Regions from separate parts of the Homo sapiens genome. Here all the other regions are linked to region 2. The links come from fine-mapping of genetic effects on gene expression. A gene starts in region 2. Each other region holds a variant in brackets. All regions are shown on one strand. Distances are between the middles of the regions.

Region 1 (4,241 bases), 210 kb before region 2:
CGACACTGCACTCCAGCCTGGCGACAGAGCGAGACTCTGTTTCAAAAAAAAATCATAGCTAACTGCAGCCTCAAACTCCTGGGCTCGAGCCATCCACTAGCCTCAGCCTCCCCAAAGTGGTGGGATTACAGGAATGAGCCACTGCGCCTGGCCTTCTATGGTATCTTTTGATGAAGAGAGGATTTTAATTTTAATGTTGCAGAATGTTTGGATATTTTCCTCTAGTTGCTTTTCATATATTGAATAAGAACACCTTCCTTACCATGAAGCCATGAAAATAGTCTCCTAGGCCAGGTGCAGTGGCTCACACCTGTAATCCCAGAACTTTGGGAGGCTGAGGCAGGTGGTTCATCTGATGTCAGGAGTTCGAGACCAGCCTGGCCAACATGGTGAAACCCCGTCTCTACCAAAGATACAAAAATTAGCTGGGCATGGGGCCGACGCCTGTAATCGCAGCTACTGGGGAGGCTGAGGCAGGAGAATCTCTTGAACCCGGGAAGCGGAGTTTGCAGTGAGCCGAGACCGAGCCACTGCACTCCAGCCTGGATGACAAGAGCAAAACTCTGTCTCAAAAAAAAAAAAAAAGCAGAAAATAGTCTCCTATATTACCTTCTAAAAGATTTCATTTTACCTGTTACATAGGTCTTTAGCCCACCTAGAATTATTTTGATAAATGGAGTAAGGAAGGGGTCTCATTTCTTTCTATCTCTATCTCTTTCATCTCTGTCTTCATCTCTGTCTCTCAGAGTTTGCTGATTTGTCCTAGCCTCATTTATTGTAAACTTCATCCTTTCCCCACTGACACATCATGCAACCTCAAACTTACATCCAGGGTTGACACATGTGGGTGTCTTTTTCTGGACTCTCCATTATGTTCCATTGTTTATTTGTCTGTTCCTGCTTCCTTTACCACACTGACATAATTACACATAGTAACACTCTGTATTAGCCTTGATGTCTCATAGAGTAAGACATCTAACATTTTTCTTCACCTTCAAGAGTGCCTTGGCCACCATGAGCCCTTCTTATTTTCATATAAAGTTTAAAATCAGCTTAAGTTCCTCAAAAGATTGGGGTTTGATTGGGATTATATTTATTACAAAAATCAGTTTAGGAAGAATTGTCATCTTAACTATATGGAGTCTTCTAATTTGTAGGATTAATATACCTCTTCTGTTAAACACATTTTCTTTAATATCAGTAACATTTTATTATTTTATTTGAAGAAGTCTTACGTAGAAAGCAAAAAGTTTCCTCTTCAAAGTTTTCCTTCTTGTTAAAGAATAAATCACAAGTGTTAGAAATAATAGTTTATTTTAAAGACTTTCTTCAAGCCTCCTTGCTTTGTGCTAATAACTTTGTTAAGCCCTATCCTATGTAACTGTTGGACGTCATCACAGACACATTCCAGCTCACAGCGTATGCCCCTTCCTTATTTGGAAATGTTATTGCTTCCTTAAACCTTTCGTAAGCAACTTCTTGTTGTTCTTCTCTGCACTTAACTATTTAGGAAAGTTGCAGGTTATTAGTAAACTGGGTATCAGTTTAAGATTGTGAGGTCCCACTCCAGTCAATGGATGCAGGACACAGCAGTAAGGATGACTCAAATGCGTTAAGGGATAAATATGTCTGCTTTTCCTTTGTTCAAGGATGCTCTCGCCATTGTTCCATCTGCAA[T/C]TGAGCACCCTTTCTGCAGAAAGTAAAGATGGCCTTGCTGAGAGATCTTTTGTCACTGTGATGACTTTTCTTTGTGGCACCAATGATCTATTTCTAACAATTTTGGTATTTCTAACAATTTTGGTAGCAATTGTACGGGTATACATTCTCCTCCGGGGCATCTCTAGTCCTCTCTCATGAGGCGCCATGCCGCCTCTTGTGGTGGCCTTAGGGGTAAGGGGCTGAGACCCACCCGGTGTGATGAATAAATCTGGACTCTCAGCAACACGGAAAGAAACTGGCCACTAACCTGGGGTAAAGGATCCTCATCTACCATGGCGACGACTCTGTGCACAGACCAACGAAGGAGAAGCCACGGGAGTCGATAAAGTACTTCCTTGATGGTGAAATTCCGGAGGGCTGAATGTGTATGTGTGTGAATGATCACAGACAACCCTGTTTGCAGTGTTGTTTGTGTGGATGGTGACAAGTCCTGCTGCTGGACGGAGTTAGTGGGTCCTCTCCGCGGTCCCCTAGCTACCTCATATGGCTTAGGGCGGATCCTGCGTTGGGATTTATACCGGCATGCCAACACTAAGAGGGGCCTAATTCTCCCTCGGGGAAGCGGCCAGAGTGGGAAGTGTGCAAGGGACCTTCAGAGAAGGAAAGGGAGGAAACAGGTCAACCTCCCAGGGCAGGCAAGGCAAGACATACATCCCTGGTTTGAGGGGTTGAGCCTTCTGGGGCAGGCAAAGCACCCCCTGGTTTGAGGGGTTGCACCTTCCAGGACAGGCAAGGCAAGACATCCCTGGTTTGAGGGGTTGAGCTTTCCGCTAATTTCAGGAGACTGAACCTTACCAGTAAGCAACATGGGAAACGTTTCTAGTAAAATGAGGACAAGGAGTAAAGCTGACTCAGGGAGAGGTGAAGGTGATCAGATTCCTTCTGGTAGTCCTTTAGGGTGTATGTTAAAATATTAGAAGGATAAGGAAAGGACCAAAAACACGTAAAAGCAGCTGCTGTCCCAGCTTTACCCTCCTTAAGCAGCCATTCCACCTTGTTGTCAGTGTAAACAAGGGCGTAGCCTTAGAAATACCCTAATCAAAAATCCTTAACACAGTAACCCGCGGATGGCCCAAATGCATTCAGTCTGTAGCGGCAACTGCTTTGCTAACAGAAGAAAGTAGAAAAATAACTTTTAGAGGAAACCTCATTATGAGCACACCTCACCAGGTCAGAACTATCCTAAGTCAAAAAAAAAAAAAAAAAAAAAAAAAAAGCAAAAAGGGAGCTTATTGACTCAAGAACCTTAAAGTATGGGGCTAGTCTCTTAGAAAAAGATGATTTAACATTAACCACTGATAATTCCCTTAACCCAGCAGGTTTTCTAAGGCGGGGGAGAGCAGGGATCTAAATCTTAATTAATTACTGTACAAAGGTCCGACCAGACCTAGAAGGAACTCCCTTCAGGACAGGACAATAGATGTTTCCTCCCGGGTGATTGAGGGAAAAAGACAATGGGTATTCAGTAAGTAATAGGGAAACTCCTGTAGAAGTAGAGTTAGGAAAATTGCCTAATAGTTGGTGAGTTGTTTGCACTCAGCCAAGCCTTAAAATACTTACAGAATCAGGAAGGAGTCATCTATATCAATTCTAAGTTAAATTTGGACTAAATGAGGTCTTATTAATCACAAAGGATAATTGAAATCCCAAACTTACAAGGTTTTCAACAAAAGTAAAGTTTCCTAAAAGTTAAGTGTCACATGTATTATCCTAACTTCTAATCTTGTGGCCTTAGGCAGTCTAGTCCACAGACATGAAGAAAGTTTGCTTTAGAAAAGAATGGTTATCATCTTAGAGAGAGAGAAAAAAATTTGTTTTAAAGGTTTAAGCAAGTTTTGAAACATTAATTGTAAGGGGAATTCTGTGTGTAAACATTGGCTAAAGTTAAAGGGGTATCATCCAGTTTTTCTGTGAACTGGACATTAAAATAAAAGCACAACAGGTTTTTCTTAAAGCACTAACCTGCTCTTTAACAACAATTTAAAAGGTTAAAAAGAGTCTATAAAAATCTTACCTTATGGTCAGACATTAAAATTGGATAAATATGTCCATAAAGTTTTATTAAAATTAAGTTTAACATTAATAACACACTAATATAAAGGTAAAATTCAGCTTATCTGGTATAAAATCATGCAGGAAGCATTGTCAAATATAAAATGGTGTTTGGCTTTCTTTGGCCTAAAAACTAATAAAAATAGGTGCTAACGGAAATTTCTCAGCAAGAAGACACTAAGGACTGTAAAATCCACTGCTGATATCCCCACATTTAAAACAAAAAATCAATTTCTTGGAAATTATATACTTGGTTTCTCTTCCACCTTCTCTTCCCTTAAAACAAAAGGTCTTTTAGCACAGGCGCCGCCCTTGGAGTTTCCAGTACACCAGCACCACCCTGGGGATCACGTTCCCATCAAAGGGTAGAAAGAAGGGAAACTCAAGCCAGCCTGGGAAGGACCCTGCCTTGTGCTGCTACCCACCAAGACTGCTGTTCCTACAGCAGAACGGGGATGGACACAGCACAC
Region 2 (4,241 bases):
ATATAACTAAACATCTTTAAAAGATAAATGCCTGTGACCTCTGCAATCTTAAAAATTAAAGTGTAAATAGTCATAAAAGGTATCCCAAACTTCCTTTTTAGTTGATTTTCCTAAAAAATATGAAAAGCAATCATATTGAAAATGACTCAAATCACCATAAATTAGGCAACAAAAATCACACAAATTATTTGGGGGAGGAGGATTTTTGTTTAATCCAGTTTATGAGTCCATAATACACACAAAAATTTGAAAACATGAAGACATACACATAATACATCTCATTTCCCACCATTCCCTCAGACTATTTCTCCCTCTCCTCTATTGTTAGTTTTCTAAATCCTCCCATAATTTCTTTATATAAAGAGCAAACATAAACTTGTATTATTACACCTCGCCCTTAAGATGTAACACACTATTCACAAAGTACCGCTACACCTTGCTTTTTTCACTTCATAGCAAATTTTTGCAATCTTTGCATGTTAGTACGTAGAAAGCTTCCTTATTCTTTTTTCATAACTGATTACGCCTAGCTTTAGAACATTTTCAGTCTGCTTTCTTCAGGCTAACTTTTTTTTTTTTTACTTTTTTTATTATTATACTTTAAGTTCTAGGGTACATGTGCACAACGTGCAGGTTTGTCACATATGTATAAATGTGCCACGCTGGTGTGCTGCACCCATTAACTCGTCGTTTACATTAGGTATTTCTCCTAATGCTACAGGCTAACCTTTCAAGACATTCTGTTCAGCCAACCACTTATCACAGGAATTAATTTCCTTCCCCCAAGCTTTGAAAACCAATCAGATTTGAGGTGTCCCAAGGGATAAGTTTCAGAGAAAGCAATTCATTATCTAAATTACATCCTTTTAAGAATGTTTATTTTCAAACAGGTAGAGGGGAATATTGCACAATTTTCTCTAATCGCTTAAAGCTACAAATCAGAACGCAATCTTCAAAGTGAAATTACCTTTGATTTGGGGGGATCAGCGTTATAGTCAAATCAACGACTGTAAAAGTTTACTTCTTGTGCTTTTCTTCCACTGTAAAAATTTTTTTATTTTTTAAAGAAGGCTAAAAAGCCTTAAAGTCTAATAGCACGGCATTCTAATAGCAGGAAACCACAATCTGATTTGATCTTTCATCTGCCAGGTCAGAGACTAGGCTTTTATCTTGCAGAATTAGGCTCACCTACCATCAACAAGAGGACCTCTACAAAGCTACAAACACTTTCAAAGAATATAAACTCTGCGGCGCTGCGTGTAGGAAATTACACTCCAGGGGCCAGAGCGCCAGAGCCAACTCCAGAAAACCCAGCTTCACTGGCGGAAAGAAATCTACAAACGCCAGCGGCGGTGACGGGGAACGGGAAGCGCGGGTGGACGGAAGAAGAGAAACCGAGCGCCTCGCCGCCAACCCTCGAACCCGCGCGCGGTCGCTGGAGTCAGACGCTAATAGCCGCGCGCTGCCTAGGAACGGAACCCCGGAACCACCACCACTAACGGAACCAGCCCGCGGCCGGCAACGGCGGCCGTTCGGACTGCGGACTGCGGCACGCGGGCCGGGCGCCGGGAGGGCGGGGGTTCCCCGGAGGAGCTGGCCGCCCCGGCGCCCCATTGGGCGCTGCTCCAAACGTGCCCGAGTGGTGACAGGAATAAAGTGGGTCACAAGGCCTAGCGGGTCCCCAGCGAAAGCTCTCTCGGCACCCGGTCCCCGTCTTTCCCCGCCTCCCAGCTGCTGGAATCGGCCGCAGCTCCGGGCGCCCTCAAGCCGCCCGGCCCCGCCGTGCACCCCACTCCCGCCCCTGCCCCGCAGGTAACCCCAGCTGCCCCAGAGGGCCTCTCAGGCAGGGCGGGCCTCGGCCCGAAGTCCCGGGAAAAGACACACTAGAACGACACGCCAAACTTGGGCTTCAGCTCCCGCCTTCCCCACCCTTGGCCGCCGCCCCCCGGCCCCACACACGCCGCCCCCCGCTCCCTCCCCTTCCCCGCGCCCTCACCGTGTGGCTTGCGGCGGCTCCGGCTTCTTCCCTCCCCCACCCAGGTCTCCCGCTGCGGTGACTCGGAACCACTACCCCGCCTGTGTCCAGGAGGCGCCGCGGCTCCCACCTCCAGCAGCACCTGGGGCTGTGAGTGGCGCCCCCCACCCACCCCCCCAAAAATTCGCCGCTCCTGTGGCCAGCTCCTCCTCCCCCTCCCTTCCCTTCCCCTCCTCCACCAGCCCAGGAGCGCGCATGCGCCGCCAAGGAAGCCAACCGGCACTCGGCAGGCCCTGGGCCCACCGGGCGGGCGCCTCTCACCGGGAGCGCTCGCGGCGGCGGCGGCCAGATTTCCTTCGCGCTCTCGCTCTCCGGGGTTTCCTTTTTTAAACCGGCAGCCGCAAGCCGAGTCCGTGATTGCGCCCCCTCCCGGCGCATGCGTCGTCAGCGACCCCGCGGGCTCAGACGGCCGGCGGAGGCTCTGCGCTCGCCCCTCCCCTCACTCTCCCTTTCCCCAGCGCGGCTCGGTGCGCATGCGACTTGCCCCGTTAGGCAGCACGGAGCCGCGCCAGGGGATCCCGGACGCCCGAAGAGACTCCCGCGCCCCTTGGGCCGAAATCTGGCTCTGCAGGCGCACCGTTCCCTGCCCCGGCCGGGAACGGCGCCGGTTACTAGAAAGCCGGGGAGGCGGGGCCTGGTCGGGTGGAGGGCGCGGCCGGCCGGCAGAGCGCTAGCCTTAGGTCCTGGAGGCTCTTTGGCTTTCCCCCCGTATGCCGGGGGCTAGGAGGAGGAAGAAGAGCTTCCTGCCGGATGAGGGATCCAGAGGCCAGAAAAGGAACCCGCTCTCCCTTCCAAAGCAAAACACTGCCGACGCCAGCTTAGATTTTTCGGGTGTTGGCAGGAGACTTTTTCCCCCAGTGGCATCATTCGTGTTTCCTCTCCTGGTGCTGGGAGAGAAGAGTTGCAAAGGCGCCTGGACCGCCAGTAACATCTTCTCCCATCTCCTGAGGGAGCGCGGCTTGGGTTGCTTCTTCTTGGTGGGTGGGCCTGGGGAGACAGGGCATGCGCCCTCGGCCAGAGGAGGGAAGCGAAAGGAGGTCGGGATTTATTTGCTCATTTGGAGATTTTTCCCTTGCCCTTTTATTAAAAATCAAGTGACAGTGTAATGGAAGATGGAGAATGAAGCATCAGAAATAAACCAGGACCCTAATTTGCATGGATTTCCTCGTTGGAACAACGTGTGACTACTACTTATCTTCGGGAAATTACTTATCTTGATGCGTTAAGGCACATTTGGTCCACATGAGAAAGCACATTTCAGTGCTTCTACTGGAAAAGAGATCTTTACAGTCTTAATTCCTAGTAATTCCTATGTTTTAATGAATATCTTTTGGATTTGAAATAAAAGCCATCTTTTTCTTTCAAAAAATGCACTTTTCTGGCCGTAAAATCCTCCCTTTAAAGTAACAGTCACCTCAGTAAACATTTTCAATTCTTGCTGTATGCTCTGGGCAAAAGAACATCAAACTGAAGCACTTATTCAGATCCTTGATCCTGCACCTAAGGATTTTTCTTTCAGGAGTGGGAAAACATGATTTGTTAATTTACCCCATCATATAGCAGAAGATATTTTGGTCGACATTTTTGCCTGTTCAGCATTCATTCCCTATTCTGATAATTTCTTTTGAAGAACTATCATTTATCCACTCTCAGTCCATATGGTCTGAGCAGGACACAAGGGGAAGGCATATTTGAGTTTAATCCTCGGTTGCAAACTACGGTTCCTAAGAAGGGTGTTACGTCTTTACCAATGGGTTTAAATCTGGGAGAATGGAGACCTGGAGCCATCTTTCCACACGTGAATTCTGAGAAAGAAGGCAACACGGAAAAAAAGCAGATTTGAAGACAGGTTTGGCCTAAAGACATGTTTGAGGCCTGGAAACAAATGTAGATTAGATTCCTCTGGAAATTTCGTTAAACCAGTCAGTAAATTCTTGCATCTGTTTTATTGCTTAAACCAGTGAGAGGTTTTCTTTCACATGTAATCAAGAGTCCCGACTGACAAGAGGTAGGTAGCAAGACGGAGGCAAAGTTATTAATACTGATAAGGTAGGTTGCAGCCAGACAAGAGAGGGCTTGAATGCTTTCCCTAGGATGGATTTTTGAATTTTATTCTAGAGACACTGATCCCTCCTTATATTCCCCATCATCTAGAACATATTATCTTCAAAATACCTTTGCCCTTTTTAATGATTTCATTGTCCTC
Region 3 (4,238 bases), 110 kb before region 2:
ATAAACTATATCCTATTCCACTAAATAATGTTTCCCTGAGGAAACCCAGGCAGCTTACAAAATACTGTTATAAACACTCACAACAAAACCTGCAGAGTATTTTATTTAAGAAAAACAAGGAATGTAGTGTTATGACATAGGGGGAAAAAACTATGCAAAACAGTCACATGGAAAGAAAGTATTTTAATTTTTAAAATCCAAGTTTGCTTAATTTCTTGTGAACTGTTCAACACTGTTTTAAATATCCTGAATAACTGTGCCAACAAAATTCATCCCCAGTGTTTCCACAGGAGACATTAAAATTAAAGACCAAATTATACTATTTTTTTCCTTTAACCAAAGTATTCTTTTTCTCAGTCCTTTTTGTGCAAAAATATTACAAGAGCAATTCAAATGGAAATGCTGAAATGACATGCCAACATTTCAGGGCACATTTAAAACACTCAGAATAATTCTTGAAATTATTATATTCTAAAATGTTACTAGCAATCACTTTTAGATTAGTTCTGTACATCTACTCACACGGATGCAATTTTCCTAGACCTCTGAAAAATAAACAGGCTCATTGGTCTCTTTTGGTGTCCACACAATAGGCAAGATAGGTTTACAATAGTGTTTAAATCAAACTAGGCATCTACAATCTCTTGACTCCACCACATTCAAAACAAAAATCAAAGTTCATTTGGCTATCTTGAAATCACTCCCATAAACCAACTACGGTTCACTGGACCTAAACATTTCTCAGAAATGTGTCATTTTATATAATTTCACCTAAGTAAGTGATGATTTGGGGATCCTTTAGAAATGGTTAACGCCTAAGAATAAACTTTATCAAAATGAGTAATTGCAATAAAGTGCTTGTTACATTTCAAAATGATGCTTTTAGACTGTGGTATGTTGTTTTAAAAGTGTGTGCTATTCCTTCCGTAAAGGATCCCCAGGCATGAGAGTTGGGTCTTCTCACCTGTCTCATAAAGCAGCAGCACTATCTTTTGGTAGGCTGACAATAGGCACATTACCCATGCGGATGAGGCTATACTAGTGCTATGGCAAAAGGGGAAGTAAATTAGAAAAGTGGGAGGCATGTAGAGGGTTCCTATTATAGTTATATACAAATATATTAAATATACTATAAAAATAGTCGATTCTATTCCTTTGCAATTACTTCAGAAGCTCCTTTTAGAAGAAAGCTCACCCAATCCAAACTTAAAAGGTTCTCTTTCTCCAAACACTTAAAATGGCAAGTGCCTTTGTGCTGTTTCTTCTCTACCATTCAAAAATTCCAATCAGCTTGTCCTGGCTAGAAAGACTCACTCAGCAACATTAATATCCAGTGTTTACCCCCTTCCAACAGGGACTCCTGTGGGACTAAGGGCCACAGGTAATTGGAAAGGTTATAGACTTGAATGCGTTTTACACAAATATTCATCAACAAACTTTCAATTACCAAAGAAACAGAAAGAAAAAAGCAGAAATACTAAAGTAAAATGCTATTTGCATTCCACTTTTAAAAAGTTTGCCTCAATGTAGTGGAAACATCTGAAAACATGTTGAGTAATATCCAGTTTAAAAGAATTTTCACTTGTCTGCGTAGAGTACTATTTTAAGGATCCCTTTCTAAGGCTTCCTGAACAAGGGTTCTTCTCCCTTCAACAGTGCTCTTGATGGAGCTGGACTGCTTCAGTGCTCCTAGCGTCAAGCAGACTGCTTTAAGGCAATGACCAACAACTACAGCACTTCTGAAGACCAAACATTTTCACTATTTTGCACTGAATGTTCTATAACAAACTATTCCAAATCACTGGCATCTTGTTATTACTATTCCATTCCTAAGCCAGATATAAATGACAAAGGAGAGCACAGCACTGTCAAGTTACCCCC[G/A]GAATTTGGGATGCTCGAAGGCTAGACCGTAGTATTTACTCACATGCTACCTGCATCTCCCATACTTTTCTCCAATATTTTCCATTCAAAAAATGAAGTACTTTTTAAGTGTCTCGGTTCTGGTTTGACACCACTCTAAGGAGCAACTTTATTAACCCTTCTAGTTCTCACTTGCATTTGTTAAACAATACTGACTCTCCCAAAACTATGATAACTGCAAGTCCAAAGCACGGTAACTGCAGAGTAGCTAGCATTTTTCCTGAAACTCAGTAGTTTCTTACCTAAAAAGTACCACCCAGAATAAGTGTTTTTAAGAAAGTGAGAATAAAGCAGAGGGAAGACTTTTTTTTTTTTTTTTTTAAAGCTGGAAGGTGTTTCTATTTGGTATCTTTAAATGCTATAGATTTGGGATTTTAACTAACAGCTTTGGCTATAGAAATGAAGAACAGACACTGCTGAATCTTCATTTGAATGCTCAAGTTTCATGGGGCAGGGTGGGGGGCGGGATAGCTTTGCAACCCAAATTTAAGAGAATCAGGAGGAAAACAAAGCAGCAAAGAGGCAGCTGGTGCTTACTACCTCTTCCACTACTACGCTTCAGACTGACAGAAAAGCAGCTAGCTGCTCCTTTAAATTAGCAATGGTTAATTCTAAGCAGGAAAAGATGAGCTGCGAAGAACAGTAAGAATCATAAAGGAAAATTTTAATTTTTTCCCCCGACTATTTGTGGAGATGGGAAATAATTGAAGGGGCTGGAGTAGGACAATGTGAGTAAACAGTTTAGACGTTTACCTGGGGCTTGTCTTATGCTTTGTTGCTGTCAACCTAAGTAGTACTCACAGTTCACCATCTTTTAAGTGTGGTATGTAGAGGACAGGCCTCAATATAATAGTTCTTCATATCTTTTGTTAGCTAAATCCGTATCACTAGGTATTGCCAATAAATAAATGAGGCACAACTCAGATATATATGGAATGGCATAAGGTCAAGAAAGGCAATTTGAAAGGGGAGAAGAACAATGCTATTGCCATATTCCACAACATCCCCCTTGTCTGTGTACATATGCTCAGGTACATACATATTCTGACAACTATTCTTGATATTCATGGGAATGTGGGAAATCTCTACTGGATGGTCATTTAGCTAGAAGAGCTCCTTGATATGTTAATTACTGATTGATATCTAGTCACACTTCTTTTGTAGAAGGGTAAGTACCAATTTTCTTTGGTTGTTTTCTTTTTCAACATTAATGTTCAAAGTAATTGTAGCCAGGTAGAATTTTCTGCAGAAAGACAAAGTATATGCCTTAAGGATAACAGCAAAGCAGAGGACAGAGAAGTCTTAAGAACTGGCTTAGCATTCCCCTGACCTCTTTACCTAGCAATTCTGCATTAGGTTAATCTTCATTATTCAGAACCTTTTCTGTTTTAACAACCTCAACTCTGTTACACATTTTCTTTTGAGGTCAATTTTGATTTATTACACTTGTCCTCTCCTCCCTTTCCTCAGTAATAACATTTTTTATATTCTAATAATGTATTTTCTACTAATCCTCTTTTGTTCTATCACTGTAAATTTCATTAGTACCATAAAATCTGTAAAATGTTTTTTAAATGTATGTAACTTGTATTGGAATTTATTACTTTTAGAATATGATATTGCCAAAGGAAATCTTAGTTCACGTTTAGAAGGCATGTGAGTTACAATATTCTAATGTTGTAGTGAAGGCATAGCCAAATCCCTACCCCTTCTTTTTTCTTTGTAGGAATATCAAGATCATATTGAGCAAATATTTCTGGTAAATTCTTAAATGACTAAAGAAAAATGCTGATTTAGGAAACAATTTTAGGATCACATTAATAACTATGATAGTGTTAGGTTATCATCTTTTATTTCTAAATTATTTGTACCTCCAGTCCAAGAGACTGATAGCAGTCTTCAGAGGAACTTATTAGGAGACTAATAATGACACTGACACCCACATGCTGTTAAAAAGGTACTAAGGTTTCAAAACTGCTACGGAAACCGGACAATGACTTCAAGATGGTGAGTTATCACCTGAATTAAAATCAAGGCACTATGGGGTTTTTTCCCCTCAAATAACCCTGAATCATTTCTGACTAAAAGAAGCATTGAAATTGTGAAGGATAATAAAAAAGATTTCAACAAATCCCAAAAGTTAAAATTCCCATGATTGAGAATGTTAAAAAGTGCCTAAGATGTTTTGTGTGCAAATTTTACCTCTATAACTGAAACATTCTTGAAATTACTTTCAGGCTTGTTGAAAACCATTTACGCAAATATTTCCAACTATGAACTATAACAAAATATGCAATCAAAACTCCCAGCCACCTAAA

What was found. PIP is the estimated chance that this variant, and not a neighbour inherited with it, causes the effect.
Region 1: its variant is fine-mapped to the expression of CLOCK in whole blood (INTERVAL, PIP 0.98).
Region 3: its variant is fine-mapped to the expression of CLOCK in monocytes (TOPMed, PIP 0.95).

The regions. Positions count from the first base shown.
Region 1 is chr4:55,337,280-55,341,520 of GRCh38, forward strand. No RefSeq gene overlaps it. Among named protein-coding and RNA genes, the nearest start is that of SRD5A3, 6.8 kb to the right of the region's middle. The variant T/C (reference allele first, on the strand shown) is at 1,678.
Region 2 is chr4:55,544,486-55,548,726 of GRCh38, forward strand. CLOCK (clock circadian regulator) reads right to left here and starts at 2,424. Exons shown (of 23, transcript NM_004898.4): 1 at 2,297-2,424. LOC124900704 (a long non-coding RNA gene) reads left to right here and starts at 1,380. Exons shown (of 2, transcript XR_007058122.1): 1 at 1,380-2,125; 2 at 3,131-3,404. RefSeq lists silencers at 1,420-2,049, 2,170-2,269, 2,330-2,699.
Region 3 is chr4:55,430,252-55,434,489 of GRCh38, forward strand. CLOCK (clock circadian regulator) reads right to left here. Exons shown (of 23, transcript NM_004898.4): 23 at 1-4,238. It also overlaps a transcript of TMEM165 not described here. Among named protein-coding and RNA genes, the nearest start is that of TMEM165, 36 kb to the left of the region's middle. The variant G/A (reference allele first, on the strand shown) is at 1,882.